Regions from separate parts of the Homo sapiens genome. Here region 1 is linked to region 2. The links come from fine-mapping of genetic effects on gene expression. Tissue or cell type: whole blood. Region 2 holds a variant in brackets; the other region holds the start of a gene. All regions are shown on one strand. Distances are from middle to middle.

The links. PIP is the estimated chance that this variant, and not a neighbour inherited with it, causes the effect.
Region 1: CORO1A-AS1 starts here. The variant in region 2 is fine-mapped to the expression of CORO1A-AS1 in whole blood (TOPMed, PIP 0.95).

What each region holds. Positions count from the first base shown.
Region 1 is chr16:30,181,302-30,190,680 of GRCh38, reverse strand. CORO1A-AS1 (CORO1A antisense RNA 1) reads left to right here and starts at 5,893. Exons shown (of 2, transcript NR_186359.1): 1 at 5,893-6,177; 2 at 6,910-7,288. CORO1A (coronin 1A) reads right to left here and starts at 7,079. Exons shown (of 11, transcript NM_007074.4): 1 at 6,956-7,079; 2 at 5,274-5,472; 3 at 3,961-4,083; 4 at 3,736-3,865; 5 at 3,458-3,642; 6 at 3,180-3,299; 7 at 2,852-2,956; 8 at 2,594-2,739; 9 at 2,432-2,489; 10 at 2,105-2,320; 11 at 1,605-1,821. The coding sequence starts at 5,471. The coding sequence ends at 1,717. RefSeq lists enhancers at 3,079-3,373, 3,013-3,552, 3,553-4,093, 4,117-4,266, 4,597-4,746 and 5 more and silencers at 5,177-5,276, 6,647-6,756, 6,787-7,246, 7,387-7,496.
Region 2 is chr16:30,149,734-30,160,128 of GRCh38, reverse strand. No RefSeq gene overlaps it. Among named protein-coding and RNA genes, the nearest start is that of CORO1A, 29 kb to the left of the region's middle. The variant C/T (reference allele first, on the strand shown) is at 6,250.

The sequences.
Region 1 (9,379 bases), 31 kb before region 2:
CAAGAATGAAACTCCATCTCAGAAAAAATTAAATAAATAAAAAAGTGGGGAGACTTGGACTCTGACTTGGGATCTGCCCTTCAGTGAGCTGGGCTCCTGCTCCCGGCCTCAGTTTCTTCTCTGGTAAACTAGGATCAGCCTGTTGCCTTAATTCTGTCTTTTCCTTAGAAGAAGTTCCCCTGTTTCATATATTAAAATATATAATATATAAAACATATATATAAAATATATATAATTTATATTATAATATATAATATAATATAATATAATATAATATATATTATAATATATATTATATATTATACTATATTATTATATAGTATAATATATAACTTATTACTATATAATATAATATATAATTTATTATTATATAATATAATATATATTATATATTAAAATATATAATTAATATATATAATATTTATATATTAAAATATAATATATATAATATTTATATATTAAAATATATTATATATAATATATTTATATATTAAAATATATAATATATATAATATATTTATATATTAAAATATATATGATGTATTTATACATTTAAAAAATATATATATATATATATATATATATTTTTTTTTTTTTTTGAGACGAAGTCTCACTCCTGTCCCCCAGGCTGGAGTACAATGGCATGATCTCGGCTCACTGCAACCTTTGCCTCCCGGATTCAAGCAATTCTCTTGCCTCAGCCTCCTGAGTAGCTGAGATTACAGGCGCCTGCCACCATGCCCAGCTAATTTTTGTATTTTTAGTAGAGATGGGGTTTCACCATGTTGGCCAGGCTGGTCTCGAACTTCTGACCTCAGGTGATTCACCCACCTCGGCCTCCTAAAGTGCTGGGATTACAGGCGTGAGCTGCCACACCCGGCCTATTTATATTTTTTAGAGACAGTGTCTTGCTCTGTCACCCAGGCTGCAGTGCAGTGGTGCAATGGCTCATTGCAGCCTCGACCTCCTGGGCTCAAGGGATCCTCCTGCCTCAGCCTCCTGAGTAGCTGGAACTATAGGTGCCCACCACCATGCCTGGCTAATTTTTTATTTTATTTTTCGTAGAGACGGTATCTCGCCGTGTTGCTCAGGCAGGTCTCAAACTCCTGGGCTCAAATGATCCTGCCGCCTCAGCCTCCCACAGTGCTGGGATTATAGACGTGAGTCCCCATGCCCAGCCTCCCTCGTTATTTTTATCTTTGGACCTGCAGTTTAAAAGATGCCTACCCTGTAAGTGATGGTTGGTTCATTTCCTCACAAGCAACAGTGCCAGCAGAGTCACGTGCAACGTGATGTTTTGGTTGACTAGGAAAGGCAGATTTTTGGTAAATTTGGGAATTATTGAGGTTCTAAGCTAGGGCCTTAAATAGTTCAGCTGTGTCAGCTCTGAGAAGGAGCTCGGAAACGGAGAGCAGCCTCCTGGCCCACATCAGCATGGCTGGTTTCTACCCACGAAGGCCCTGTTCCTGTGATGTAGTAAGTCAGGGGGCATCCCACATCCCCTGCCATGGGTCAGTCCCCTCAGCGCGGTGGAGGGGAAGCTCTAGGGCTGGTTGGTTCAGCAAACTGCGTGTCTAGGGGACCAGTCATCAGAGTCTGGGAGGTACCAGAAAATAAAGCCATTTTATTATGATTTTTTTCTCTGCCATGTGGCTGGGAATGGGAGGTGAGTGGATGGGTGTGAATGGCTGACCCTGCTGGAGGCCCTGCGGGGCTCTACTTGGCCTGGACTGTCTCCTCCAGCCTGTCCAAGCGCTTCTGGAGCTCCTGCACCGTGGCCTGGAGCTTCCGCATCTCCTCCTCCAGCCGAGACACGGCATCCTGGGGACCCGGTGCTGCATTAGGCCCAGCTCCTCCCTGGCTCCCCTTACCCCAGCCTCTGCTGAGCCCCATCCCTAGAGCCCTGGCCTTGGGCCCTTTAGTCGCTCAGCTGGTTGCTGCCTGGAGACCTGCAGGCCTATCAATCTGAAACCTGTGTTCTGAGGCCTCAGGATTACCATTCCCGGACCCACAAAGATTCCCAATGTTGTGAGTTTGAGGTGCCCCAAACACCAGCCCCACCCCACCCTCCCAGTTTTATTCCCTGGCTTCCCAGCCCTCTCACCGAGCTGGGAGTGCCACTGGCCTCTGGTGCTGCCCTCCTGCGCCCGGTGTCCAGGCCCCGGTTGACCCTCAGCTCCCGGCTCTTTGGGGGTACGTAGCCATCCTTGAGGGAGATGAGGAGGGGCCCAGCATCCCGACCCCCCAGCCACTCCTCAGCCGTGAGGGCAGGGTCGGGCCCTGCGGTGGGTGGGTACAGGTCCTCCTGGAACAGGTCCGACTGTGGGCAAGGCCAGGGATAGTGAGGAAAGCGCTTATGCCAGGACACCCCCCACAAGACCGCAAAGTCAGTGCCCAGCCTGGAGCCCAGGGTGGGGCGGGGGAGCATCACCTTTCGAGGCACTGTCATGGCAATGGGCTCACACCTCCGCTCGTGCAGCTTGTAGAACCTGTGGGAAGGGGAAGGTGAGCGGGGCCCACAGTCTGGTTGGGTGGGCTTGGGACTGCCCACTGCCCAAGGAGCATGCTGCGGTCAGGGCCGGGGGTCAGTCACCTGGCGATCTCACACTTGTTCACCTCCAGGCCACGTTTGGGCATGTAGCCCATGCCCCGCTGGGACTCCTTGGAACTGAACATGGAGAGATAGTGCAGGAAAGGGGCCTCGGAAGTGATCTCAAAGTACCGGATTGAGCTGTCACCCTGTAGGTGGCAGGTGTGGAGGGAGGGTCAATACCAGCGGATGCCCACTGCCCTGGCCCTCTCCAGGCCCATCCTGCCCACCTCCCACCCCCACCCCGCCCGACGAGGCCACCTTGCCACAGAGGTAGACGATGTTGGTGTCAGGGTCAAAGAAGGGCAGCAGGACACCGCTGCTGGTGTCCAGCTCCTGCAGGGACAGCGGCTCCTCCAGGTGCTTCTGTAGACACAGGTGAGAGGTAACATCCCAGGCCCTGGGATGGTGGTCTTCCCTGGGCAGTGACCTGTGAGGGCCCTCCCGACCAACCAGTGGGAACAACCATCTCACGCCTGGGTAAACTGAGGCCCATGGCCATCCTGCCAGGTGAGTGGCAGAGCAGGGACGAAACCTCCAGTCTTGGTTCCCAGCCTGGGGGCCCTCGGCTTCCTGCCCCAGCACTCACTGTGTCCCACAGCGCCACCTGCCGCTCACTCATGCGGCTGAAGCCCGTGGTCAGGATCTTCCCCTCCGACACGAACACTGCACGCACGGGCCGGGTCCCCTCGTGGGGACGGTCCTTCTCCTGCAAGGAAAGGGAGGTGGTAGGTCAGGCACCCGTACATACCCTACGGGGCCAGTCCCAGGTGGAGGCGAGGGAGGGCAGCATCCAAGGGCCTGGCTGATGGTGGATAAGAAGGATAAAGGCTGTAGGGTCAAAGGTCAGGGTAGATGGCGACTCACAGCTACGACAGTGCCTTTGCGGGGCTCGATGATGCGCACGCGCTTGTCACGGCAGGAGGTACAAATGAGGCCTCCATCTCGGCTCCAGTCCACACTGTAGATCGTGTCTGGGTGCACCTCTGGGCCCAGTGTCAGCATGGCCGCCCCAGTGCCCACGTCCCACACCATGATCACGTTGTCACAACCTGCACGTTCCCCACAGTGTCAGAAGCCATGAGCCTCCTGCCCTCATCCACTGCAGGCCACGAGCCACCCCCAAGCCCCTCCTCCCGCAGCACCTGCACTGAGCAGCACGTTCTGGGCTGTGGTGTGCCAGGCCACAATGCCCACACGCTTGGTGTGGCCCTCCAGGGTGACGACGGGCTCCCGCAGGGGCAGCATCAGGCCCCCATCTGGGATCTCCCACACCTGCAGAGGAGGGGCCAGTGAGTCTTCAGGACTCCAAATGTCAGATCCCATCCTAGAGCCCCTCTCCCAGCCCCTGGGTCCCCACCACCACTCACCATGACTGTGCAGTCCTCGGAGCCACTGGCAATGACGTTGTCATTGTGCGGGCACCAGGCGATGTCTAGCACAGGGGCTGTGTGGCCACAGACCGTGGGCGCATTCTTGTCCACACGTCCAGTCTAAAGGCACAGCAGGGCCTTGGAGGTGCTTTTGCCTCCCAAACCCAATCCAACCTCCCCACACCTCCTTCAGAGAGGCCCAGAGAGGAAAGCTGTGGTGTCCCTGGGAGCTGGACCAGGGCCTGGGGTGGGGACGGGGGCGGGTTGTTCTTCTCTTGTTCCAGTCCCAAAATGGCCTGGGCAAACCCCAGGAGGGCTGGCCACGCATGGCAGAGGTTGGGGGCCGTGCAAGACCCTGGCAGAGTTCCCGCCGGTCTCTGTCTCAGTCTGTCTCTGCCCTTAGGGTTGGCACCCCCACCCCAGCTTCCCCGAGTGAGGCTTCCATGGGCACAACTGGCCCTGGAGCCAGGACAGGTGTATGGGGGCTGGGGGGGTGGAGGCAGCTCCCCAGAGAGCGAGTGTGAGTGGTGGGGCTGCAGGGGTGGGTCCTCCCAAAAGGAGAGGGGCCAGGGAGCCTGTCCCAACTGGCCCCAGGCAGGAGCAGAGGTTTGGAAATGGCTTCTTCCGGGGACAGCTGCTTCAGCAGGGCTTCCTGTGTGACAGCCATGTGGGGCGCGGGCCCAGCTCTCACCCCGACAACCACTTCCTCTTCTCTTTGCTTCCATCAGCCCTTTTAAGGTAACAACTTGGGGCCCATCTCCCCTTCCTGTCTTACCCCCCAAAGAGCACAGGAGTGTGCTGGGGGTGCGGGGCAGCAGCCAGCCAGCGGAGGGGGCAGCAGGCTCCAGGGGAGGGCAGGGCTGCGGGTGGGGGAGAGCACCTCTTGCATCATCCCTGCCTGCGAGCTGGGGGACAGAGTTGCTAGGTCCTCAGACAGGCCCAGAGCCAGAGTCCCTCCCAACCCTGAGAACGCTGCCAGGGCCCCCAGACCCCATCCCAACCCCCTCTGTGTTTCCATGGGGAGAAAGCCCCAGGCTGAGGCTCAGGAGGGCTGATCATGGGTCTGCAGGACTGTCTGTAGTCCTGGTCACTGGTGTGACCCATCTTGTGTTGGCTCCTTCTGAGCGTCAGTTTCCACACAGCCACAGCACAGAGGAGCTGGAGGAAGTGTAAGGCTCATGGGGCCCAGCTCAGTTTTCCAGATGGCAACACAGGCCCTGGAAGGCCTGGTGACCGTCACCTAATCAGGACCTGCACAGAGCCATGGGTCCGGTGGAGGAGCTGCTCCCCCCAGGGCCCCAGGGGCTCACCTTGCCCAGGGGCAGCACCAGGAAGGCCCCTCCCCCGCTGGCCTCACAGATCAGGGCCACAAACTTAGGGTTGACAGCACAGAAGCCACTGTCCCAGGTGGTCTGTGAGACGCGCACATCTTCATAGCACTGGTCGGCCTTGGCCGGCTGTCCAAACACGTGGCGGAACTTGCTGGAGCGGACCACCTGCCGGCTCATTCTGGGGGCACACAGCATAAGAGCATTTCTCCCTTCAGGTCAACTCTGATCTTCCAGTGGTCCCCACCTCCCCCAGGACACCCCTCAGTCTGGCTTTTAAGGTCCCAGCATCATCTCCAGGGGCTCCCTATTCTTCCCTCTGTGGCTGATGCCTGCTTGCCTTCCCCAGCCTCTCCTTCCCTCTAACCTGCAAGCCCCCTTCTCCCTGGCCCCAGGCCACTCTGAGCCACCCTCTCAATCTGTACCCTCAGCCTCTGCAACAGAGCCTGGCGTGGTGTTGCCCCACTGCATGTTTGTTGACTGACTGGCTGATGGATGCAGAGCCCGTCCTTCCTAATGGTTCAGACTCAGGCGTCATCAGCCCAGATGGCTCCGAGGGTGGGTTCTCTCTTAGTTACCGTGTCCAGAGCCCACCTCCCTCACACCCACACAGCGCTTCCTAAAGGCAGGGACAGGAGCTGGCCTCCCTCGCCTGCTGGCATGGGGCTGGACACAGGAGGAAGTGGCGTGGGGGCTGCCTGAGGGGAGTGAGGCGGCAGGATAGCTTCCCCAGCAGGTCTCTGGCTCAGGTCCAGGTATCTCCTCCTCCCCATACCTCTGCCTCTCGCCTCCGCTCAGAAAAGCAGGTGCCCTTAAGAGCCATCTCCACCCCCATGTAAACTGCACACAGGAAGGGAGAGGCCACTCCGACTGCTCTGAGGTCCAGGTAGGATGGTTTCCCCCAGTGTCTGGGTGGGGAGCAAGGAACTCCAGGGGCGACCTTGTGCCACCGCATCACCTTCCTGCTCAGGGAAGGGGCCTGTGCTGCCGCTTGGAGGGTGCCATGCCCAGAGCCTCTGCCCCTAGCCTCAGCCTCGCCTACTCACTGGGGGCTCCAGCACCCCCGGCCACCCCAGGACTCCCGAAGAGGCTGCTAGGTCGGCCTGCCCAAAGAGCGGTGAGGAGCGTATGTGAAGAGCCCCAGTCTTGAGGAGCAGCCTGTATCTGGAGAGAGGGGAGCCCCGGACCAGAGGTGGGGGACAGGAAGCCATCGCCCCACCCTGCCTCCTCCCCCACCACAGGTACCAGGCCCGGAAACCACGGAAAGGGGAACTTGGTCTTTTCTTGTTTTGCTCTCAACCCCTTCCTGTCTCCAAGCCCAGGGCAGCTGCCCCGCTCACCCCACCCTGCCCTCGTCCCCACCCTCCCCGAGACTCAATTCCGTGGGGAGTCGGGCCCTCGACACTGTGCTGACCCCCGGCCACCCACCTCCATCTTGGCCGCGGTGGTCCCTAGCCCTCGCCTCCGCAGAGCGCTCTGGGGCCCCGGCGGCCCCCACTCCAAGCAGCGTCCCCCCACGGGCTGCTGCGCCCGCTACCTGGCCCCGGCGCTGGCTGGGTCGCGGTGACAGCCGCGCGCCCCCGCAGCCCGCGGCTCCCACGCGCGCGCCGCCCCACAGGTGGCCCTCGCCCCGGCCCACCCGCGCCTCCCAGGCCCAGCCTCACCTGCTGCCGAGAGAGGACAGTGATCCCCCAAAAGCCGGAGGTGGAGGAGGAGGAGGAAGAGGAGGAAGGAGCTGGAGGAGCCGGGGACTCGCCCGCTGAAGATGCTCTTGTCAAGACAATGAATGAGAAGCAGCCGTGCGCCCGCCTCCGGGGTGGCCGCGCCCCTTGGGGCGGAGCTCTTCCAGGCCCGCCCTGCGCTCCCGGGCTCCCGCTGCGGCCGCCTCTCTCCCCGGCCCCTGCCCGTGCACCACGTTGGTCCCCAACCATAGCGCAGGCTGCCATCCCGGCTCCGGGAAGCGAATCTAAACTTCTTTTTAAAATGTCAAAACGCAAGAGCACCCCATTGCTTCTTTCCTCCCTGCGTCCGCCCCCAGCCTCCTCGCCAGCCTTTCCCTGGCAGGCACGAAAGCGCCCCAGGCCCGCCCGCCAGGCCTCGGTGCCCGCCCCGGCCCGGCTGCGCCGCCCCTTCCTCCCGGCCCCGCAGACGCGAGCGCAGGGGGCGCGGGGGGCGCGGGGGGCGCGAGGGGCGCGGGGGGCGCGGGCGAGGAGGAGCCCCGAGCGCGCTCCTGGACCCCCGGGACCTGGCTCTTGCCTGGCTCTGAGATCTAAGCATGGGTGGCCCCGGGAGTCGCTTCTCCTCCCTGGATCTCCTGGCTTCATCGGGAACACCCCTGCCCTCCTGCTGAAATAATCCGGCATCACGGGCACCTACTTCGTGCCAGGGGCTACAGGGTCGAGCAAGGCAGGCAAGCCAGGCAGGTTTCCGCCCCTGAAGAGCCCAGCCTGGGGGAAGGAGGAGGAGCCCACGGCCGCTCCAAGCCCTGGCTTTGGCGAAGGCTCGAGGGCAAGGAGGAATAGTTCCCACCCTTGGATTCAGAGAGGCTTCTGGAGGCAGCAACAGCGGGCAGGAAAGGCCTGCTCTAGAGTCAGACTATGTCATGAGTGCGACCGCAGCCTGTCACCTGCTGAGTGAGGTGTGGCCGCTACTTAGCCTTTCTCAGCCTCGGTTTCTCCCTCTGTAACAGTCATACCTGCCACGTAAGAGGTATGGGGATGATTACCTAAAATAACCCAAGGAAGTCAGTAAGGACCTCATCTAGAAAGTGGCGGGTGCTTAATAAACGTTAGCTCTCAGCCATGCGTAGTGACTCACGCCTGTAATCCCAGCACTTTGGGAGGCCAAGGCTGGCGGATCACCTGAGGTCAGGAGTTCGAGACCAGCCTGGCCAACATGGTAAAACCGCATCTCTACTAAAAATACAAAAATTAGCGTGGTGTAGTGATGCACCCCTGTAATCCCAGCTACTGAGGAGGCTAAGGCATGAGAATAGCTTGAACCCTGGAGGCAGAGGCTGCAGTGAGCCAAGATTGAGCCACTGTTATCACCCAGTCTTCTCTGGGTGAAAGAGCAAGACCGTCTCATTTTAAAAAAAGTTAGCTCTCATCATTCTTGTTTAAAAAGTATCTGGGCTGGGCCTGAAAGGATTAGGAAGAGCCAACAGGCAAGGCTAGAGGGGTGACCTGTAGGCTGAGGGACAGCCCTGTCGTGTGGAGAAGTTCAAGGAACAGCAAGGGACGGGTTCAAGTCCCACCTCTGCCACTGACTGGCTGTGCGATCTTGGCCAAGAGGGCTAATCTCTCTGAACCTCATTTTGTCATTGGTAAATGGGGAATTAATAAGATTTGAACTGCCCACCTCACAAAGTTATGAGGCTCTGGCCGGGCGCAGTGCCTCACGCCTGTAATCCCAGCACTTTGGGAGGCCAAGGCGGGCAGATCACGAGGTCAGGAGATGGAGACCATCCTGGCTAACATGGTGAAACCCCCTCTCTACTAAAAATACAAAAAATTAGCCAGGCATGGTGGCAGGCGCCTGTAGTCCCAGCTACTTGGGAGGCTGAGGCAGGAGAATGGTGTGAACCCAGGAGGCGGAGGTTGCAGTGAGCCGAGATCGTGGCACTACACTCCAGCCTGGGTGACAGAGCGAGACTCCATCTCAAAAAAAAAAAAAAAAAAAAATTACCCGGGCATGGTGGTGCATGCTTGTAATCCCAACTACTCTGGAGGCTGAGGCAGGAGAATTGCTTGAACCTGGGAGGCGGAGGTTGCAGTGAGCTGAGATGGCACTATTGCACTCCAGCCTGGGCAACAAGAGTGAAACTCCGTCTCAAAAAAAAAAAAATTAGCTGGGCATGGTGGTGTGCGCCTGTAGTCCCAGCTACTCGGGAGGCTGAGGCAGAAGAATCGCCTGAACCCAGGAGGCAGAGGTTGCAGTGAGCCAAGACTGTGCCATTGCACTCCAGCCTGGGCAACAGAGTAAGACTCCATCTCAACAACAACAAAAAAGTTACTAGGCTCAAATGAGACAATAAATCTGTAAATCTTTTATAGATTATTCAATTGTAAAAACCTTAGGGCTGTACT
Region 2 (10,395 bases):
CGGGCAGATCACCTGAGGTCAGGAGTTTAAGACCAGCCTGGTCAACACAGGGAAACCCTTTCTCTATTAAAAATACAAAAATTAGCTGGGCGTGGTGGTGCACTCCTGTAATCCCAGCTACTCAGGAGACCAAGACAGGAGAATTGCTTGAACCCAGGAAGCGGAGGTTGCAGTGAGCTGAGATCGTGCCACTGCACTCCAGCTTGGGGGACAGAGCAAGATTCTGTCTCAAAAAAAAAAAAAAGAAGACTAGCAGCACAGATTTCACGAGCAACCTATATATAGCTATTTCAGAATCACAGAATGCAGTCATCTTCTAAAACACAGGCTTAATGATACTCTCCTGCTTTGTAAACTGGAAGAGCTTCTTGGCACTCTCCTGTTAAATCCAAACTCTTCCTTATAACCTCTATTCAGAGTTATGTCCTTTCCAACAGAATTGCCTAATTTTAAGAGCTGGGAGATATTTCTGTTTACTATTTTACATTTCTTTTTTTCTTTTCTTACTTTTTTTTTTTTTTTTCTGAGATGGAGTTTCGCTTTGTCGCCCAGGCTGGAGTGCAGTGGCACGATCTTGGCTCACTTCCAGCTCCGCCTCCCAGGTTCACGTCATTCTCCTGCCTCAGCCTCCCAAGTAGCTGGTACTACAGGTGCCTGCCACCAGGCCCGGCTAATTTTTTGTATTTTTAGTAGAGACGGGGTTTCATCGTGTTAGCCAGGATGATCTCAATCTCCTGACCTCGTGATCCACCTGCCTTGTCCTCCCAAAGTGCTGGGATTAGAGGCGTGAGCCACTGTGCCCGGCCTTTTTTTTTTTTTAAGATGGAGTCTTGCTCTGTCGCCCAGGCTGGAGTGCAGTGGTGTAATCTCAGCTCACAGCAACCTCCGCCTCCTGGGTTCAAGCGATTCTCCTGCCTCAGCCTTCCAAAAAGCTGGGACTACAGGCGCCCACCACCACACCCAGCACAGACGGGGTGGCGGCCGGGCAGAAGCGCTCCTCACTTCCCAGACGGGGTGGCGGCCGGGCAGAGGCTGTAATCTTAGCACTTTAGGAGGCCAAGGCAGGCGGCTGGGAGGTGGAGGTTTTAGCGAGCCGAGATCACGCCACTGCACTCCAGCCTGGGCAACATTGAGCATTGAGTGAGCGAGACTCCGTCTGCAATCCCAGCACCTCAGGAGGCTGAGACGGGCAGATCACTCAAGGTCAGGAGCTGGAGACCAGCCCGGCCAACACGGCGAAACCCCGTCTCCACCAAAAATACAAAAACCAGTCAGGCGTGGCGGCGCATGCCTGCAATCCCAGGCACTCGGCAGGCCGAGGCAGGAGAATCACAGGAGCCTGAGGCAGGGAGGTTGCAGCGAGCCGAGATCACGGCAGTATAGTCCAGCCTCGGCAACAGAGGGAGACTGTTGAAAGAAAGAAAGAGAGAGAGAGAGAGAAAGAAAGGCGGGCAGGCAGGCGTTTTTTCACTTTCTTGACGGTGTTCTTTGAATCACAGAAGTTTCACGTTTTTGTTTCAAATTCTTTTTTTTTTTTTTTTTTTTGAGACAGAGTCTCACTCTGTCCCCCAGTCTGGAATGCAGTGGCACGATCTCGGCTCACTGCAAGCTCCGCCTCCTGGGTTCACACCATTCTCCTGCCTCAGCCTCCTGAGTAGCTGGGACTACAGGCACCAGCCACCACACCCCGCTAATTTTTATTTTTATTTATTTTTATTTTATTTTATTTTATTTTTGTATTTTTAGTAGAGACAGGGTTTTGCCGTGTTAGTCAGGATGGTCTGGATCTCCTGACCTCGTGATCCACCTGCCTTGGCCTCCCAAAGTGCTGGGATTACAGGCGTGAGCCACTGCGCCCGACCAAAATTCTTTTACACTTATTATGATTGTTGAGTATTTTCTATATTTTATTTTAAATCCTGGGATACACGTGCAGGATGTACAGGTTTGTTACATAGGTAAACGTGTGCCATGGTGCTTTGCTGCACCTATCAACCCATCACTTATGTATTAAGCCCTGAATACATTAGCTTTATCCTAATGCTCTTGCTCCCCCGACCCCCCGACAGGCCCCAGTGTATGTTATAAGTTTCACATTTTGATGAAGCCCAATGTATCTGTTTTCATTGTTGTTGCTTTCCTTTTTGTTGACATGTCTAAGAAGACACTGCCGGGATGGGTGCGGTGGCTCATGCCTGTAATCCCAGCACTTTGGGAGGCCGAGGCACCCGGATCACAACGTCAGGAGATGGAGAACATCCTGGCTAACATGGTGAAACCCCGTTTCTACTAAATACACAAAAAATTAGCCGGGTGTGGTGGTGGGCGCCTGTAGTCCCAGCTACTCGGGAGGCTGAGGCAGGAGAATGGTGTGAACCTGGGAGGCCGAGCTTGCAGTGAACCGAGATTGTGCTGCTGCACTCCAGCCTGGGCAACAGAGCAAGACTCCGTCTCAAAAAAAAAAAAAAAAGACACTGCCAAATTTGAAGCTACAAAGACTTGTCCCTATGTTTTCTTCTAAGAGTTTTATAGTTTTAGCTTTTACATTTGGTTTTAAAACAACAACAACCCTATTTTGAGTTAATTTTTGTATATGGTATGAGGCAGGGGCTCCACATTCCTTATTTATTTATTATTTTTTGAAACAGGATCTTACTCTGCTGCCCAGGCTGGAGTGCAGTGGTGTGATCACAACTCACTGCAGCCTTGAACTCTTGGGCTCAGGTGATCCTCCCACCTCAGTCTCCTAAGTAGTTGGGACTACAGGCACACACCACCATGCCTTGCTTATCTTTTTGTATTTTTTGTGGGACAGGAGTTTCACTATGTTGTTCAGGCTAGTCTCAAACTCCTGGGGTCAAGTGATCCACCCACCTCGGGCTCCCAAAGTGCTGGGATTACAGGCATGAGCAACCATGCCCAGTCAAGTTCATTATTTTGTATGTGTATGTTTTGTACATGTTCACTGTTACATAGCACTGTTTATTTAAAGACTATTCTTTCCCTCATTGAATTGTCTTGGCACCCTTATTTAAAATAAATTGACCACAGACATATAGGTTTATTTCTGGACTCTAGATTTTTTTTTTTTTGAGGCAGAGTCTGTCACTCAGGGTTCAAGTGATTCTCCTGCCTCAGCCTCCCATGTAGCTGGGACTACAGGTGCCCACCTCCACACCTGGCTAATTTTTGTATTTTTAGTAGAGATGGGGTTTCACCATGTTGGCCAGGCTGGTCTCGAACTCCTGACCTCAAGTGATCCACCCACCTCAGCCTCCCAAAGTGCTGGGATTATAGCTGTGAGCCACCACATCCAGCCATGGACTCTATAGATCATTGATCTATGGGTCTAGCCCTATGACAGTATCACAGTGTCTTGATTACTGTAGCTTTGTAGTAAGTTTTGAAATTGGGAAGTGTGAGCCTTCAACTTGTTTCTTTTTCAAGATTGTTTTGGCTATTCTGAGTCCCCTGAGTTTCCATATGAATTTTAGGACCCATTTGTCAATTTCTACAAGGAAGTCACTGGAATTCCAATAGGGATTGGGTAGATTAATTTAACAATATTAAATCTTCTGATCCATGAATGTGGGGTATCTTTCCATTTACTTAGAAATCAAATCTTCTTTGATTTGTTTCAACAATTATTTCAAGGTTTCAGAGCATACATTTTGTACTCCTTTTGTTAAGTTTATTCTTAAGTATTTTATTTTGGGGGTGCTATTGTAAATGGAATTGTTTTCTTAATTTCGTTTTCAGAAATTGTTCATTGCATTTTTTTTTTTTTTTTTGAGACGGGGTCTCGCTCTGTCACCAGGCTGGAGTGCAGTGGCACGATCTCAGCTCATTGCAACCTCCAACTCCCTGGTTCAAGCGATTCTCCTGCCTCAGCCTCCTGAGTAGCTGGGATTACAGGCATGCGCCACCACACCCAGCTAATTTTTTTGTATTTTTAGTAGAGACGGGGTTTCACCATGTTGGCCAGGATGGTCTCTATCTCCTGACCTCGTGATCCACCCACCTCAGCCTCCCAAAGTTCTGGGATTACAGGCATGAGCCACCACACCCGGCTTTTTTTTTTTTTTTTTTTTTTGAGATGAAATGTCACTCTTGTCGCCCAGGCTGGAGTGCAATGGTGCATTCTCGGCTCACCACAACCTCCACCTCTCAGATTCAAGCTATTCTCCTGCCTCAGCCTCTCTAGTAGTTGGGATTGCAGGTGCCGACCACCATGCCTGGCTAATTTTTTTGTTTGTTTGTTTTTGTATTATTAGTAGAGATGGGATTTCATCATGTTGGCCAGGCTGGTCTCGAACTCCTGACCTCAAGTGATCTGCCCGCCTTGGCCTCCCAAAGTGCTGGGATTACAGCTGTGAGCAAACGTGCCTGACCTGTCCATTGCAATTATATGGAAATATAATTGATTTTTTTTTTGCATATTGACCTATATCTTGCAACATTACTGTTTTCATTAATTAGTTTGTTTTTTGTTTTTTGTTTTTCAGATGGAGTCTCGCTCTGTCACACAGGCTGGAGTGAAGTGGCATGATGTCGGCTCACTGCAACCTCCGCACCCCATGTTCAAGCAATTCTCCTGCCTCAGCCTCCTCAGTAGCTGGGATTATAGGTGCGTGCCACCACGCCTAGCTCATTTTTGTATTTTTTTAGTAGAGATGGAGTTTCACCATGTTGGCCAAGCTGGCCTCCATCTCCTGACCTCAGGTGACCCACCCACCTTGGCCTCTCAAAGTGCTAGGATTACAGGCATGAGCCACCTCACCTGACCTTGGCCTTTTTTTTTTTTTTTTTTTAGACAGTGTCTATCTCTATTGCCCAGGCAGGAGTACAGTGGTGCGATCTTGGCTTACTGCAGCCTCAACCTCCCAGGCTCAAGTAATTCTCTCTCTTCAGCCTCCCAAATAGCTGAGACCACATGCATGCACCACCATGCCCAGCTGATTTTGTTTATTTTTGTCGAGACGGGGGTTTCACGGTGTTGCCCAGGATGGTCTCGTACTCCTGGGCTCAAGAGATCCTTCCATCTCAGCCTCCCAAAGTGCTGGGATTACAGGTGTGAGCCACTGTGCCTGGCCAGTTTTATTTTCTTATTGTGATAAAACATATAACATGAGATGTACCCTCCTAGCAAGTTTTTGTTGTTGATTTTTGTTTGTTTGTTTGCTTTTGATGGAGTCTTACTCTGTCGCCCAGGCTAGGGGGCAGTGGCACGATCTTGGCTCACTGTGGCCTCTGCCTCCCGGGTTCCGGCAATTCTCCTGCCTCAGCCTCCATGCCACGCAACCATCCCCAGCTAATTTTTATTTATTTATTTTTTAGTAGAGACGGGGTTTTGCCATGTTGGCCAGGATGGTCTCGATCTCCTGACCTCGTGATCCGCCCGCCTCGGCCTCCTAACGTGCTGGGATTACAGGCATGAGCTACCACACCTGGACCCGAGCAAGTTTTAAGTGTACAGTACTTTAAACTACGATCACAACGTAGTGCAGCAGATTCTAAAATTTTTCATTTTGCATGACTGAAACTCGATACCCAATAAACAGCAACTCCTCCTCTCCCCCTCCCCTCAGCTGCTGAACATCACCTTTCTAATTTTTGTTTTGGTGAGTTTGACTACTTTAGATACCTCGTATGAGTGGAATCATGCAGTTTTTGTCCTTCTATAACTGGTTTATTTCACTTAGTATAATGTCTTTGTCTTAAGCCATTCTTGCTTTGCTATAAAGAAATGCCGGAGACTGGGTAATTTACGGTGAAAAGAGGTTTAATTGGCTCATGGTTCTGCAGGCTGTACAGGAAGCATGGTGCTGGCATCTGCTTGGCTTCTGGGGAGGCCCCAGGAAACTTAAAATCATGGCAGAAGGCGAATGGGGAGCAGGCATGTCATGGCGAAAACAGGAGCAAGACAGCGAGAGGGTGAGGAGGGGTGCCACTAACTTTTAAAGAGTCAGATCTCGTGTGAACTCAGAGTAAGGGCTCACTTATTGCTAAGGAGATGGCGCAAGCCATTTATGAGGGATCTGCCCCCGTGATCCAAACACTTCCCCACAGGCCCCACCTCCAACATTGGGGATTGCATTTCTACAAGAGATTTGGGCAGAGACACACATCGAAACTGTATCAGTCTTCAGGGTTCATCTGTGTTGTAGCATATGACAAGATTTCCTCCTTTTTACAGCTGAATAATATTCCATTGTATGTCTGTGCCACATTTTCTTTCTTTCTTTCTTT[C/T]TTTTTTTTTGAGATGGAATCTTGCTCCATCACCCAGGCTGGAGCGCAGTGGCGCAATCTCAGCTCACTGCAAGCTCCACCTCCCGGGTTCACGCCATTCTCCTGCCTCAGCCTCCTGAGTAGCTGGGACTACAGGCGCCCGCCACCACACCTGGCTAATTTTTTGTATTTTTAGTAGAGATGGGGTTTCACCGTGTTAGCCAGGATGGTCTCAATCTCCTGACCTCGTGATCCGCCCACCTTGGCCTCACATTTTCTTTATCCATTCATCTGTTAGTGGACATTTAGGTTGTGTACACCTCTTGATTATTGTAAATAATACTGAAATGAACATGGGAATGCAGATATCTCTTTGAGATTCTGATTTCAATTCTTTTGGATAAATACCCAGAAGTGGCCAGGCGCAGTGGCTCACACCTGTAATTCCAGCACTTTGGGAGGCCGAGGTGGGTGGATCACTTGAGGTCAGGAGTTCAAGACCAGCCTGGCTGACATGGTGAAACCCTGTCTCTACTGAAAACACAAAAATTAGGCCGGGCACGTGGCTCATGCCTGTAATCCCAGCACTTTGGGAGGCTGAGGTGTGTGGATCACTTGAGGTCAGGAGTTCAAGACCAGCCTGGCTGACATGGTGAAACCCTGTCTCTACTGAAAACACAAAAATTAGGCCGGGCACATGGCTCATGCCTGTAATCCCAGCACTTTGGGAGGCTGAGGTGGGTGGATGACCTGAGGTCAGGAGTTTGAGACCAGCTTGGCCAACATGGTGAAACCCCGTCTCTACTAAAAATATAAAAATTAGTCTGCATGGTGGCAGATGCCTGTAATCCCAGCTACTCAGGAGGCTGAGGCAGGAGAATCACTTGAACCCGGAAGATGGAGGTTGTAATGAGCCAAGATCACACCACTGCACTCCAGCCTGGGCGACAGAGTGAGACTCTGTCTCAAAAAACATACACAGACACACACACACACACACACACACACACAAATTAGCTGGACGTGATAGCACACCCCTGTAGTCCCAGCTGCTTGAGAGACCAAGGCACAAGAATCGCATGAACCCAGGAGGCGGAGGTTCCTGTGAGCCAAGATCGCACCATTGTACTCCATTCTGGGTGACAAGAGCGAAGCTCCGTCTCAAAAATAAATAAATAAATAAATAAATAAATAAATAAATAAATACCCAAAAGTGGGACTGCTGGATCATATGGTAGTTCTATTTTTAATATTTTGAGGAACTTTCACACAGTTTTCCACATTAGCTGTACCATTTTACATTCCCACCAACAGTGCACGGGGTTTCCAATTCGCTCTCATTCTTGCCACACGTATTTTCTGGTTTTGGTGTTTTTTGTTTTTGTTTTCTATAGTGGCCATCGTAACAGGTATGAGGCAGCACCTCATTGTGATTTGGTGATATATATATATATACATCTAGATTTTGTCCACAGTTCCTGGTTCACAGCTCCCATAGCTCTTGCTAGAATGCTGGAGTGCTGCAATCCTCTGAAGCAGGCCTCATTGAAAAAAGAATCTCTTGGCTGGGTGTGGTGGCTCATGCCTGTAATCCCAGCTCTTTGGGAGGCCAAGGTGGGTGAATCACGAGGTCGGGAGTTCAAGACCAGCCTGGCCAACATGGTGAAACCCCGTCTTTACTACAAATACAAAAATTAGCCAGGTGTGGTGGCGGGCGCCTGTAGTCCCAGTTAGGAGGCTGAAGCAGGAGAATCGCTTGAACCTGGGAGGCGGAGGTTAGTGTGAGCGGAGATCACTGCACTCTAGCCTGAGCAACAGAGCAAGAATCCGTCTCAAAAAAAAAAAAAAAAACTCTCTCTCTCTGTTTGACCTTCTCCTGCTCTCCTTTCACCTGCTTCTTTTTCTCACCAAGGCAGGAATCTTCCCCTACCTTTCTGTATTGAAATTGGCCATAAAGAAACTCTCTGACATACCTTGTCTGAGTGTAGTTGATGACACCTTCATTTCGGTAGGACTCCTGCCCATACCCTGGAGGAAGGAAAGCTGCACAGAGAGGCCAAGGAGTTGCTGAACACAAGGGCCTTGCTGGGGTTCCCCATTCAGGGTATTAGTATTAGATCGTGCCCTTTTTGACCAATCACCTTTCTACACATTTGTCCATGCTTGAGTCATGCCTATCCAATTAAGTCTCCATAAAAGGCCAAAAGGACAGGGCTTAGGGAGCTTCCGGATAGCTGACCATGTGGAGGTCATACAGGAGTTAAGAAGAAATTACTTAGGCAGATAGTAAGGGTACAGAAGTCTTTGGTAAGGTTCTCCTTTTAATGAAAAGCAGCCCCAAATTATTTTCCTTTCTAACGAAGAGTAGCCTGTAAAATCGAGCTGCAGACATAGATGTTGGCAGTTGTGCCAATCATGTTCAAGATGGTGGCTCCATCTTCCCTTCTCTTTGTCAGCCACGTGTACAGTAAAGAGCAGACAAGATGGCGAAGGCCAAGGGGAAAGTTCATTTGCATAATATGATTAGGGTGAGGCAGCCAGCCTTCCCTGCATGCTATGTAATATCACTCTTGATCAAACCAATCTGTGAGTCCTATGTAAATCAGGCACCACATCCTCAAATCTGACTATAAAATATGGCACATCCCCCACCTGCTGGTCTTTTCCTCTCAGAAGTCCCCACTCTCACTAAAGAGAGAGCTGTGCCAGACATGGTGGCTCATGCCTGTAACCCCAGCACTTTGGAAGGCCGAGGCGGACGGATCACGAGGTCAGGAGATCGAAACCATCTCTGGCTAACACAGTGAAACCCCATCTCTACTAAAAATACAAAAAATTAGCTGGGCGTTGTGGCATGCACCTGTAGTCCCAGCTACTCAGGAGGCTGAGGCAGGAGAACGGCATGAACCTGGGAGGCGGAGCTTGCAGTGAGCTGAGATCTCTGCCACTGCACTCCAGCATGGGTGGCAGAGGAGACTCTGTCTCAAAAAAAAAAAAAAAAAAAAAAAAAAAAGAGGGAATCATGGAAACCCCAATTTGAAGCCAGTCGGTCAGAAGTTCTGGTGTGTGTAGGGGTGCAGTCTTGTGGGATTGAACCCTCAACTTGTGGGATCTGATGCTATCTTCAGGTAGATAGTGTTGGAATTGAATTGGAGGACACTCAATTCAGAATTGTCCATTGGAGAATTGGTTGTTTGCTTGGTGTTGGCAGGAGTTCCCCCCAACATTTGGTCACAGAAGACTTCTTTTTTTTTTCTTTTTTCTTTTCCTTTTCTTTTCTTTTTTTTTTGAGACCAAGTCTCACTCTGTTGCCCAGGCTGGAGTTCAGTGGTGTGATCTCTGCTCACTGCAACCTCTGCTTCCCTGGTTCAAGCATTTCTCCTGCCTCAGCCTCCCCAGTAGCTGGGATTACAGGTGCCTGCCACCACACCTGGCTATTCTTTTTGTGTTTTTAGTAGAGATAGGTTTTCACCACGTTGGTCAGGCTGTTCTTGAACTCCTGACCTCGTGATCCACCCACCTTGGCCTCCCAAAGTGCTGGGATTACAGATGTGAGCCACCGCACCCAGCCCGGTCACAGAAGACTTCTGTAGTGATTGTTACTGTGGTGTGAGAGCCAAGAAAAAAAACAGTTTGTGTTTTTTCTTCAGAGGTTTTGATTTGCATTTCCCTGGCGATTAAAGTTCTGATTTTTTAGTGGGTTCCTTAGGATTTACAGGATCTTATATATTTTCTTTTTTTGTTTTTGTTTTGTTTTGTTTGAGACAGAGTCTGACTCTGTCACCCAGGCTGGAGTGCAGTGGCACGATCTCAGCTCACTGCAAACTCTGCCTACCAGCTTCAAGGGATTCTCCTGCCTCAGACTCTGAGTAGCTGGGATTACAGGTGTGCACCACCATGCCCAGCTAATTTTTTGTATTTTTAGTAGAGACGGAGTTTCACCATGTTTGCCAGGCTGGTCTCAAACTGCTGATCTCAAATGATCTGCCCACTTTGGCCTCCCAAATGCTGGCATTACAGGCATAAGCCACCACGCCCGGCCTTGGATCTTGTATATTTTCTATATACAAGATCATGTAATCTATAGATAGTTTCACTTCTTTCTTTCCAATCTAGATGCCTTTTATTTCACTTTCTTGCTTAATTTTCCTGGCTAGAATCTCCAGT